Linked DNA regions of Homo sapiens. The protein of the gene in region 2 purifies or fractionates together with the protein of the main gene of each other region. This does not show direct contact. Each region holds a gene or a part of one and is shown on either strand. Other genes may lie near its edges. The genes, in order: ALDH7A1, SLC25A16 and ACO2.

Region 1 (3,728 bases), on a different chromosome or scaffold from region 2:
AGATCTTTGGTAAAGATGCTACTTGAAAGTCCCTGTTTTACTTCATTATTCCATGCAAAGACCTCTTCTTCATTCTAAAAGGAGAGACATTGGAAGCTGTAAGATGTTATAGTGTTCAAGTCAAAGTTCACTGACATTAAACTCATTTCCTGAAGTGTACCAGTATAATTTCAGTGTACAAAAGGAAACCAAAGAGTCAAGTTTACTCACTCTGTTTCTCTTATAATTCAGATCATTGATAATAAGTAAAAAATTTTGGGATTTTTCCCCTAATTATCAGAAACAAATATTAACACATTCTTCCTTTCATTCAAGCTACTACATATAATAGCTAATATCTATTGAGCTCTTACGTGTGTAACACACCAATCTAAGCACTTAACATGCATTTAGTTATTTAATCCTCATCCTATAACACAGGTTTCCTACTACCTCCCAATTTACAGATTGGGCAACTGAGGCCTACAGAGACTAATTTGCTCAAGAGCTCACACAGCCTCATAATGTACACAAACACATTACAAAACACAAAATTATATTCTCTAGTCCCCATACGTGAAACAATGATAGGCAATTTAAAGCAAGAAATAAAGAAGCAATGATGTAATTGCAACAAGATGCAATTCTCACTATTATTTTACTGTTAATAATGGTACATTCAAATATTGATTCAATCTCTGCAGTCTCAAAATTAATCCTAAATATTTACTGGCGAGGCTAGGGCCCGTCTCAAGCTAGGGAATGAGATCTTCTAATTTATCCACCTGTGTGGGTTTTTTGGGTTTTATTTATTTGTTTGTTTTAGAGACAGGATCTCTTCCCACCTCAGCCTCCCGAGTAGCTAGGACTATAGGTACATACAACACCTGGCTAATTTTTTAATTTTTTTGTACAGACAAGGTCTCACTGTGTTGGTCAGGCTGGTCTTGAGCACCTGGCCTCAAGTGATCCTCCCAAAGCACTGAGATTACAAGCATGAGCCATTGTGCCCAGCTTCTTCACCTATTAAAACCTTTACAGTTTGAGATCAAGATATGAGATCAGGGAAAACAAAACAAAACTCCGCAGCCTGTCCTCTGCTGGAGTTTATAACTATAGGTCTTTTTTTTTTTTGAGATGGAGTCTCACTCTGTTGCCCAGGCTGGAGTGCAATGGTGCGATCTCGGCTCACTGCAACCTCAGCCTCCTGGGTTCAAGTGATTCTCCTGCCTCAGCCTCTCAGGTAGCTGGTATTACAGATTACAGGCGCCCAACACCACGCCTGGCTAATTTTTTTGTTTTTTAGTAGAGACGGGGTTTCACCATGTTGGCCAGGCTGGTCTCGAACTCCTGACCTCAGGTGATCTGCCTGCCTCACCCTCCCAAAGTGCTGGGATTACAGGTGTGAGCCACCGTGCCTGGCCAACTATAGGTCTTTGTATTACCCCCACATGTTCTCATTTTGTCTGCTGACATGTTCACAGCACTCAGGCTATCAAACTATCCAGTACCACGGTTCAGGAGAAGGTGACTCTATGGCCTACACAGCCCAGGATTAAGATGACACAGGAAATGAGGACCACACACTTCATAAACTCCAACACTGGTCCACTACCCAATCTGGTTTCCCTGGCAGCTAGCTTGGCATGCTATAGAGTTTTAAAGTGTTTATCTCATATTTTATCCTGAACCTTCATATATCTACTATTCAGATTACTTTCTAAAACCCTCTTAAAGGTTCATCCAGTGAAATTTAATCCACCATCATTTTCCTCTTATCATTTATTTCAACATCAGGCTAGCGAACAGAATGCATTTTTACCTTGAATTTAAAGACATAGAGAATCGGAGCAAAAGTCTCTGTGTGTGCAATGGACGCATCGTGGCCAAGACCTGTCACAATTGTCGGTTCTACATAATTTCCAGGGCGATCCATAACCTAATGCAGAGAAATGAAATAAAAAGAATGAAAGCATTTTGTTTTCTAGGACTTGGGGTCAGAGGATGCAATCTTTGCCTACATTTATAAAGAAAAAAATTAGCATCATTTATAGGTGAATTATTTCTCCAAAATAACTTCCAATCATGAAAGAAAATTCTCTCTTCCTGATATTGGTTCTAACTTAGTTGGTCAGAGAAAAATGGAAATAAGGAGTCAGGCAGGGATAGAGAGCCATGCCATGTGACACAACCAAGTTATGTTGAACAAACACTGCTGCAAGCGGTTATTTTCACTCAGCCTGTAGTGCAATGGCTTGATCTCAGCTCACTGCAACCTCCGTCTCCCGGGTTCAAGCCATCCTCCCACCTCAGCCTCCCAAGTAACTGGGACTACAGGCATGCACCACCATGCCCAGCTAAATTTTTTTTGTATTTTTAGTAGAGACCAGGTTTCACCATTTTGGCCAGGCTGGTCTTGAACTTCTGACCTCAAGTGATCCACCTGCCTCAGCCTCCCAGAGTGCTGGGATTACAGGTGTGAGTCAACATGCCCGGCCACAAACAAATCTTTATATGTGGGGGGTTTTTTGTTTTTGATTTTTTTTTTTTATTATTTGGTTTTTTGTTTTTGATTTGGTCTTGCTTTGTTGTCCAAGCTGCAGTGCAGTGACATCATCATGACTCATTGCAGCCTCGAACTTGTGGGCTCAAGCAATCCTCCCACCTCAGCCTCCCAAGTAGCTAGCACTACATGTGCATGCCACCATACTCAGCTAATTTTTTTTTGAGACAGGGTCTCACTATGTTGTCCAGGTGGGTCTTGAATTCCTGGCCTCAAGCAATCCTCCCACCACAGCCTCCCAAAGTGCTGAGATTGCAGGTGTGAGCCACTGCACCTGGCAATATGTGTTAATTTCTTTTTTAATGCTTATGATATGTATTTTTTTATTCCTTGCCTTAACTGACTTTTTAAAATAACCAATAAATAGATTATAATTGCTCTGAATACAAAGTCTCCTACTGTACTTGAAAAGGAATTTTCCTTTCCATACAAATATTAAGGACCCAATTCAAAAGCAACCATGACTCCGTTTCTTCTATGTCCTTCCAGAAATGTCCCATGCATTTTCTGCTGTCTTTTTTTAAAATATGGAATACTTTTTAAAATACGGATATGAATTTGCATATCATCATTGTGCATAAGCCATGCTAATCTTCTCTGTATCTTTCCAATTTTAGTATATGTGCTGCCAAAGCAAGCATTGTTGTCATTCTTTAAAACGTGTATTTCTGGCTGGGCACGGTGGCTCACGCCTGTAATCCCAGCACTTTGGGAGGCCAAGGACAGTGGATCACGAAGTCAGAAGTTCCAGACCAGCCTGGCCAACATGGTGAAACCCCTTCTCTACTAAAAATACAAAAATTAGCTGGGCATGGTAATGGGTGCCTGTAATCCCAGCTACTCGGGAGGCTGAGACAGGAGAATCGCTTGAACCTGGGAGGCGAGGTTGCAGTGAGCTGAGATCACGCCACTGCACTCCAGCCTGGGCAACAGAGCAAGACGCAGGAGCCTGAGGTGGGAGGATTGCTTTAGTCCAGGAGGAAGAGGGTGCAGTGAGCTGAGATCGTGCACCACTGCACTCCAGCCTAGGTGGCAGAGCAAGACCCTGTCACAAAAACAAACAGAGCCAAGTGTGGTGGTTCATGCCTGTAATCCCAACACCTTAGGAGGCCAGGGTGGGTGGATCACTTGAGGCCAGGAGTTAGAGACCAGCCTGGCTAACATGGGAAACCCCATCTCTACCAAA
Region 2 (3,500 bases):
TTAATTTTATTAATAAACAACCTTAATGGTTCTAGTATCATGTAATGTTTAACAAGCACTACCTGCATACTATTTTTATCAGATTCTACGTGTTTTGTGAATTAACATAAACGCTTCTCTCATGGTCACAATTCTTCCTTGAAGACAAACTTAGACACTTAGTTAAAATAAAAATGCTTTTTCACTTCTTAATTTTTGCCTGTATCTTACATTATCACCATCACTGTTTTTTTGTTTTGTTTTGTTTTGTGTTTGAGACAGAGTTTCGCTCTTGTTGCCCAGGCTGGAGTGCAATGGCGTGATCTCAGCTCACCGCAAACTCCGCCTCCTGGGTTCAAATGATTCTCCTGCCTCAGCCTCCCGAGTAGCTGGGATTACAGGCATGCGCCACCACACCCGACTAATTTTGTATTTTTAGTAGAGATGGGATTTCTCTATGTTTGTCAGGCTGATCTCGAACGCCTGACCTCAGGTAATCCGCCCACCTCAGCCTCCCAAATTGTTGGGATTACAGGTGTGAGCCACCACGCCCGGCCATCATTGTTATTTTAAATGTTAAGTTGTCACATTTCCTTGTAATTAATAATCATGAATTTAATTTTTCTCATGTGAAACCTTGGAAAACTTTGTTTTTTTTCCACATATAAAGTGGCATTATATTCACTATAGCCTCCTTCAGTGCAGTAAACTTCAGTGGTGCATGAAAACCAAAGCTATAATTTTTTATTGGTGGTAATTTTGTCATCTTTAGGTTATTTATGTACACAAATCTTTCTATTTTAAATTAAGCCAAACACCAGAAATTAGGAAATGTGTTTATTATTTAAGAATGGTGTCTTTTTCACAGCTCATGTTATGTTAAGCATCATGGTGAATTTATTTTTTGTTTTTCAGGTGTTTCATTTTTTACTTTTGGTACCTTGAAGAGTGTTGGGCTTTCCCATGCTCCTACCCTTCTTGGCAGACCTTCATCAGACAATCCTAATGTCTTAGTTTTGAAAACTCATGTAAACTTACTTTGTGGTGGTGTTGCTGGAGCAATAGCGCAGACAATATCGTAAGTTTCTTCACTAACTTAATTTAATCAAATTATAGTTACCCAGTCCTGATTTTCAGCATTGTTTAATCATTTATTTTTTCTAATAGATTATTCAAAAAGAGGATCCTTGCAAAATATAGGTCTCAATTTAATACATTTTTTCAGATGTGTGTGCACTTTAAGCATATTATAAATAATTACATGTTTGGATGCAGTAGTGCTGCCTATTGTCCCAGCTACTTGGGAGACTGTGGCAGGAGGATTGCTTGAGCCCAGGAGTTTGAGGCCAGTCTGGGAGACATAGTGAGACCTTGCCCCTAAGAAAAAAAGAAAGAGGGTGGGCGCGGTGACTCACGTCTGTAATCCCAGCAGTTTGGGAGGCTTAGGCGGGTGGATCACAAGGTCAAGAGATTGAGACCATCTGGCCAACATGGTGAAAACCCGTCTTTACTAAAAACACAAAAATTAGCCGGGTGTGGTGGCAGCCACCTGTAATCCCAGCTACTCGGGAGGTTGAGGCAGAGAATTGCTTGAACCTGGGAGGTGGAGGTTGCAGTGAGCCAAGATTGCGTCACTGCACTCCAGCCTGGGCGACAGAGTGAGACTCCATCTCAAAAAAAAAAGAGAGATTGCATTTGTATATTGTGTATTTAATTTCAGGCAGTTATCTGTATTATTAGTTTTAGCCCTTATGGAAAATTTTGTATTGGTCTACTGTATTCAAGGGGACTTGCTGCATAGCATTAGAGCAGTTCTCTACTGGGGTTGATTTTACCACCAGTGGACATTTGTTAATGTCTGGAGACATTTTTGGTTGTCACAGCTGGGAGAGTGCTACTGGCATCTAGTGGGAAGAGGTCAGGGATGTGCTTAAACATCTCTAGTGCACAGGACAGTTCCCCACAACAAAGGATGATCCAACCGAAAATGTCAGTAGTGCCAGTGTTGGAAACTGTATATTAGTGTTCAACAATGAAAAGCAACCAGTTTGTTTCTTCAGGAACTGGCATTTAATTTGACCTTTAGGAATGAACAGAACTTGATATTACGGTGATGGGAGAGAAGAATCCTCTAATCAGAGGGATCACATAAGCAAAGACTTCTGTATTGTTAATTGATTTTATTCATATGCCTATATCCCGACTCCTAGGTTAGACAGAACAATAAGAGCAGTAACACGTTATTTCTTTGAATTTATAGGGCTTTGTATTCAATAGTTGTTGAGTAGAAAACCAAAAATTTTTAATTCTTTATGCCTTTTTCTTCTTTTAGCTACCCATTTGATGTGACTCGTCGGCGAATGCAATTAGGAACTGTTCTGCCGGAATTTGAAAAGTGCCTGTAAGTTCATCATATGTCATTGTTCATTTTCTTTAGGAAATGTAACATTAAACTCAGTAAGGAGATAGGACTCTAGTTTGACCAATAGTCTGTATCTTCCGTTTTATCTCCCGAAGTTTATTTTGGTAACTTTATAAGATTACAATCAGGCAATCAGGTTCTTTTTTTTTTTTTTTTTTTTTTTTTTGAGATGCAGTCTTACTCTGTCACCCGGGCTGGAGTGCAGTGGCATGGTCTTGGCTAACTGTAACCTCCGCCTCCTGGGTTCAAGTGATTCTTTTGCCTCGGTCTTCCAAGCAGCTGGGATTACAGACACCCACCACCATGACTGGCTAATTTTTTGTATTTTTAGTAGAAATAAGGTTTCACCATGTTGGCCAGGCTAGTCTTGAACTCCTGACCTCAAGTGATCTGCCTGCCTGCCTGGTCTATAATCAGGTTCTAATCCTCCTGTTAAAAATTTAATTTAGGGCCAGGCACGATAGCTCGTGCCTGTAATCCTAGCACTTTGGGAATCCGAGGAGGGCGTATCACCTGAGGTCAGGAGTTTGAGACCAGCCTGGCCAACATGATGAAACCCCATCTGTACTAAAAATACAAAAATTAGCCAGATGTGGTGTCGGGCGCCTGTAATCCCATCTACTAGGGAGGTGGAGGTTGCAGTGAGCCAATTTGGCGACAGAGTGAGACTCCATCTCAATAAAAAAAACAAAAACAAACTAAAAAAAACAAAGAAAATATTAAATTTAGGCTAGTTGTGGTAGCTCATGCCTGTAATCCGAGCAATTTGGGGGGCCAAGGTGGGAGGATCACTTGAGCTCAGGAGTCCAAGACCAGCCCAGGCAACACAGTGAGACCTTGTCTCTATAAAAAAAAATATTATTTTAGAGGTTGTGTTTTTTTTTTTTTTTTGTTTTGTTTTTTTGAGACAAAGTCTCACTCTTGTCCCCCAGGCTGGAGTGCAATGGCATGAACTCAGCTCACTGCAACCTCCCCCTTCCGGGTTCAAGCGATTCTCCTGCCTCAGCCTCCCGAGTACCTGGGATTACAGGTACCTGCCACCACGCCTGGCTAATTTTTGTATTTTTAGGAGAGACGGGGTTTCACCACGTTGGCAAGG
Region 3 (3,728 bases), on a different chromosome or scaffold from region 2:
ATCCATGTTCCAGGACGGGTGGCTGAGGCTGTACTTAGTCCCACCCAGCAAATTCCCCCACCTACTCCTTGCTTCAGTACCGTGTATTATAGCTATTTAGATGACTTCTCCCTCACCACCCTAAAAGCTCTTCCACAGACAGGGCCCTTGTCTTAGAGCTCTGTGAACACACTCATGACACAGTGAGTGCTTATAAATACCACAACCACAGATGCCCTGCAGAAGGTCAAGGAGCCCGGCTACAAGGAACTAAAGAAGTGTGGCATACAAGAAAATTAACCAGGTGTGGTGGCGCATGCCTCTGGTCCCAGCTACTTGGGAGGCTGAGGCAGGAGAATTGCTTGAGCCCCAGAGGCAAAGGTTGCAGTGAGCAGAGATCGTGTCACTCACTGCACTCCAGCTTGGGCTACAGAGTGAGACTCCTTCTCAAAAAAAAAAAAAAAAAAAAGAAGATATGTGGCAGGGACAGGGCGGGGGTTTTAAAGGAACTCTAGATACCTCTTTGGTAAGTCCCACAAATGCCCACAGAATTAAAGCTCCCAATCAGAAACCATCTCAATCTCTCCAGGGGGAAAGCAGAAATACTCACCAGGCCTCAATTCACCAAGGGCCTAGACTTGAATATTTCATGATAAAAATAAATACTGCAAATATAACTCTAAAGCTCACTTCCCCAATGTTGTCCTTAGAGAATTAAAAAACTAAACCAAAAGATTCATTTCTACCTCTTCCCCCAACTCTTTTAAAACAGTATTGAAAGGGTTTTCTTGGCCAGGCGCAGTGGCTCACGCCTGTAATCTCAATATTTTGGGAAGCTGGGGCAGCTGGACCACTTGAGGTCAGGAGTTGGAGACCAGCTTTGCCAACAGGGTGAGACCCTGTCTCTACTAAAACAAAAAATACAAAAATTAGCTGGGCATGGTGGTGCGTGCCTGTGATCCCAGCTACTTGGGAGGCTGGGGCAAAAGAACTGCTTGAACCCAGGAGGTGGAGGTTGCAGTGAGATCATGCCACTGCATCCAGACTGAGCAACAGAGCGAGACTCTATCTTGAAAAAAAGGTTTCCTTGAACAACTACCACTTACCTGCTATCTGGGGAGATGATGGGAGGAACAAGCAATTTTCACAACTGGTTTGGTTTTTTTTTTGAGACAGAGTCTCGCTCTGTTGCCCAGGCTGGAGTGCAGCAGCGTGATCTCGGCTCACTGCATCCTCTGCTTCCTGAGTTCAAGCGATTCTTCTGCCTCAGCCTCCCAAGTAGCTGGGACTACAGGCGCACACCACCATGCCCGGCTCATATCTGTATTTTTAGTAGAGACGGGGTTTCACTACATTGGCCACACTGTTCTCAAACTCCTGACCTCGTGATCCACCCATCTCGGCCTCCCAAAGTGCTGGGATTACAGGCGTGAGCCACTGTGCCCGGCCACAACTGGTCTTTTTTAAACGTATGAGCTAAGGATAAAGGCTGGGGTGATGGATGCCGCGGGCCATCTGCAGGGGCTGGAGACAGAAATGAATATTCACCAAGTGCCTCTACCCTGCACTGGATTTGCCCCAAGTACTTTATCCACACAATCCCACGACTACCCTGTGAGGCAGAAGGCATTGTGCCCATTTAATGGATGAGGAAACTGAAGCTCTGGAATGCTAACTGTTTTGCCCAGGGTCACGCAGCAAGGTGGAATTCCAGGCCTGGCTCCAAAGCTGGTGCCCCTTCCTCTGGCCCAGGTGCTGCAGAATAAAACTAAAGAGGTCGGGTGCGGTGGCTCACGCCTGTAATCCCAGCACTTTGGGAGGCCGAGGCAGGTGGATCACAAGGTCAGGAGATTGAGACCATCCTGGCTAACACCGTGAAACCCCATCTCTACTAAAAAAAAAAATACAAAAAATTAGCTGGGCGTGGTGGCGGGTGCCTGTAGTCCCAGCTACGCAGGAGGCTGAGGCAGGAGAATGGCGTGAACCCGGGAGGCGGAGCTTGAACTGAGTGGAGATCGCGCCACTGCACTCCAGCCTGGGAGACAGAGCCAGACTCCGTCTCAAAAAAATAAATAAATAAATAAATAAATAAATAAATAAATAATATGGAAACCATTCTCCCTACCTTTAATTTACTTGGGAGGCTGAGGCAGGAGACTCGCTTGAACCTGATTCTCCTGCCTCAGTCTCCCAAGTAAATGGGATTACAGGTACACGCCACCATGCCCAGTTAATTTTTTGTATTTTAGTAGAGACAGAGTTTCACCATGTTGGCCAGGCTGGTCTTGAACTCCTGACCCCAAGTGATCCACCCACCTCGGCCTCCCAAAGTCCTGGGATTACAGCCGTGAGCTACCATGCCTGGCCCATTCTCCCTACCTTTCAAGACTTCCAAAATGAAGATATTCTACAAGGGGAAAATCTGTCCCTACTCTCAATCTTAGAAATGGCCTATTCCTAAAATAATATCAGAAACTATTTGCAGTGTGTGTGTTTTTTTGTTTTTTTGTTTTGTTTTGTTTTTGAGACAGAGTCTCGCTCTGTTGCCCAAGCTGGAGTACAGTGGCGCAATCTCGGCTCATTGCAAGCTCTGCCTCCCAGGTTCAAGCGATTCTCGTACCTCAGCCTCCCGAGTAGCTGGGTCTACAGGCGACCACCCACACACCCAGCTAATTTTTTTCTATTTTTAGTAGAGATGGAGTTTCACCATGTTGGTCAGGCTGGTCTCAAACTCCTGACCTCAGGTGATCTGCCTGCCTTGGCCTCCCAAAATGCTGGGATTACAGGTGTGAGCCACTGCGTCTGGCCTTTTTTTTTTTTTTTTTTAAGACAGAGTTTCATTCTTGTTGCCCAGGCTGGAGTGCAATGGCACAATCTTAACTCAGTACAACCTCCGCCTCCCAGGTTCAAACGATTCTCCTGTCTTAGCCCACAAAGTAACTGAGATTACAGGCATGCGCCACCACACCTGACTAATTTTGTATTTTAAGTACAGACGGGGTTTCACCATGTTGGTCAGGCTGGTCTTGAGCTCCTGACCTCAGGTGATCCACCTGCCTTGGGCTCCCAAAGTGCTGGGATTACAGGCATGAGGCACCACACCCGGCTCACAATGCTTTATAACACATCAAACAGAGTCAAAACAACTTTTCAAATATTAGGCCTTCAGAACCCTTCTTAACTGAAGGGTAGTTATTAATTACACTGTTTTGCAGATGTGTAACTAACTGCAGGACCACAGAGAGTTGAGACTTTGCCCGAAGCTACCCAGTAAGCCAGTGGCAGAAGTCTCCTAAGGCTCCTGAGGGTCCATCTGCTGCTTTTTTTTTTTTTTTTGAGACAGAGTTTCACCCTGTTGCCCAGGCTGGAGTGCAGTGGCGCGATCTCGGCTCACTGCAACCTCCACCTCCTGGGTTCAGCTGATTCTCCTGCCTCAGCCTCCTGAGTAGCTGGGATCACAGGCATGCGCCACCACGACTGGCTAATTTTTTTTTTGTATTTTTAGTAAAGATGGGGTTTCACCATATTGGCCAGGCTGGTCTCGAACTCCTGAGCTTGTGATCCACCCACCTCAGCCTCCCAAAGTGCTGGGATTACAGGCGTGAGCCACCACGTCCGGCCCATTTGCTGCTTTTTAAAGGCTACAAGAAGTCTCTCTACAATACCTTCCTTCCTTCATGCTGAGAGGCCCAGAGCCCACCACTGCCTTCCAAACCAGGTGCTGGGAAAACGAGGCAAGTCAAAGAAAG

Evidence for each region.
Region 1: the proteins of SLC25A16 (region 2) and ALDH7A1 purify together in Homo sapiens (affinity purification with mass spectrometry; one large-scale study listed by BioGRID and IntAct). This does not show direct contact.
Region 3: the proteins of SLC25A16 (region 2) and ACO2 purify together in Homo sapiens (affinity purification with mass spectrometry; one large-scale study listed by BioGRID and IntAct). This does not show direct contact.

What each region holds. Positions count from the first base shown.
Region 1 is NC_000005.10:126,550,220-126,553,947, forward strand, and holds part of ALDH7A1 (alpha-aminoadipic semialdehyde dehydrogenase isoform 1 precursor), read right to left. Parts: intron 3,180-3,728; exon of another isoform or gene 3,083-3,179; intron 1,919-3,082; coding exon 1,802-1,918; intron 75-1,801; coding exon 1-74.
Region 2 is NC_000010.11:68,486,024-68,489,523, reverse strand, and holds part of SLC25A16 (solute carrier family 25 member 16), read left to right. Parts: intron 1-894; coding exon 895-1,057; intron 1,058-2,311; coding exon 2,312-2,380; coding exon of another isoform or gene 2,381-2,384; exon of another isoform or gene 2,385-2,450; intron 2,451-3,500. UniProt on the Homo sapiens protein: May be involved in the transport of coenzyme A in the mitochondrial matrix. Very little is known about the physiological function of this carrier.
Region 3 is NC_000022.11:41,475,485-41,479,212, reverse strand, and holds part of ACO2 (aconitate hydratase, mitochondrial precursor), read right to left. Parts: intron 1-3,728. UniProt on the Homo sapiens protein: Catalyzes the isomerization of citrate to isocitrate via cis-aconitate.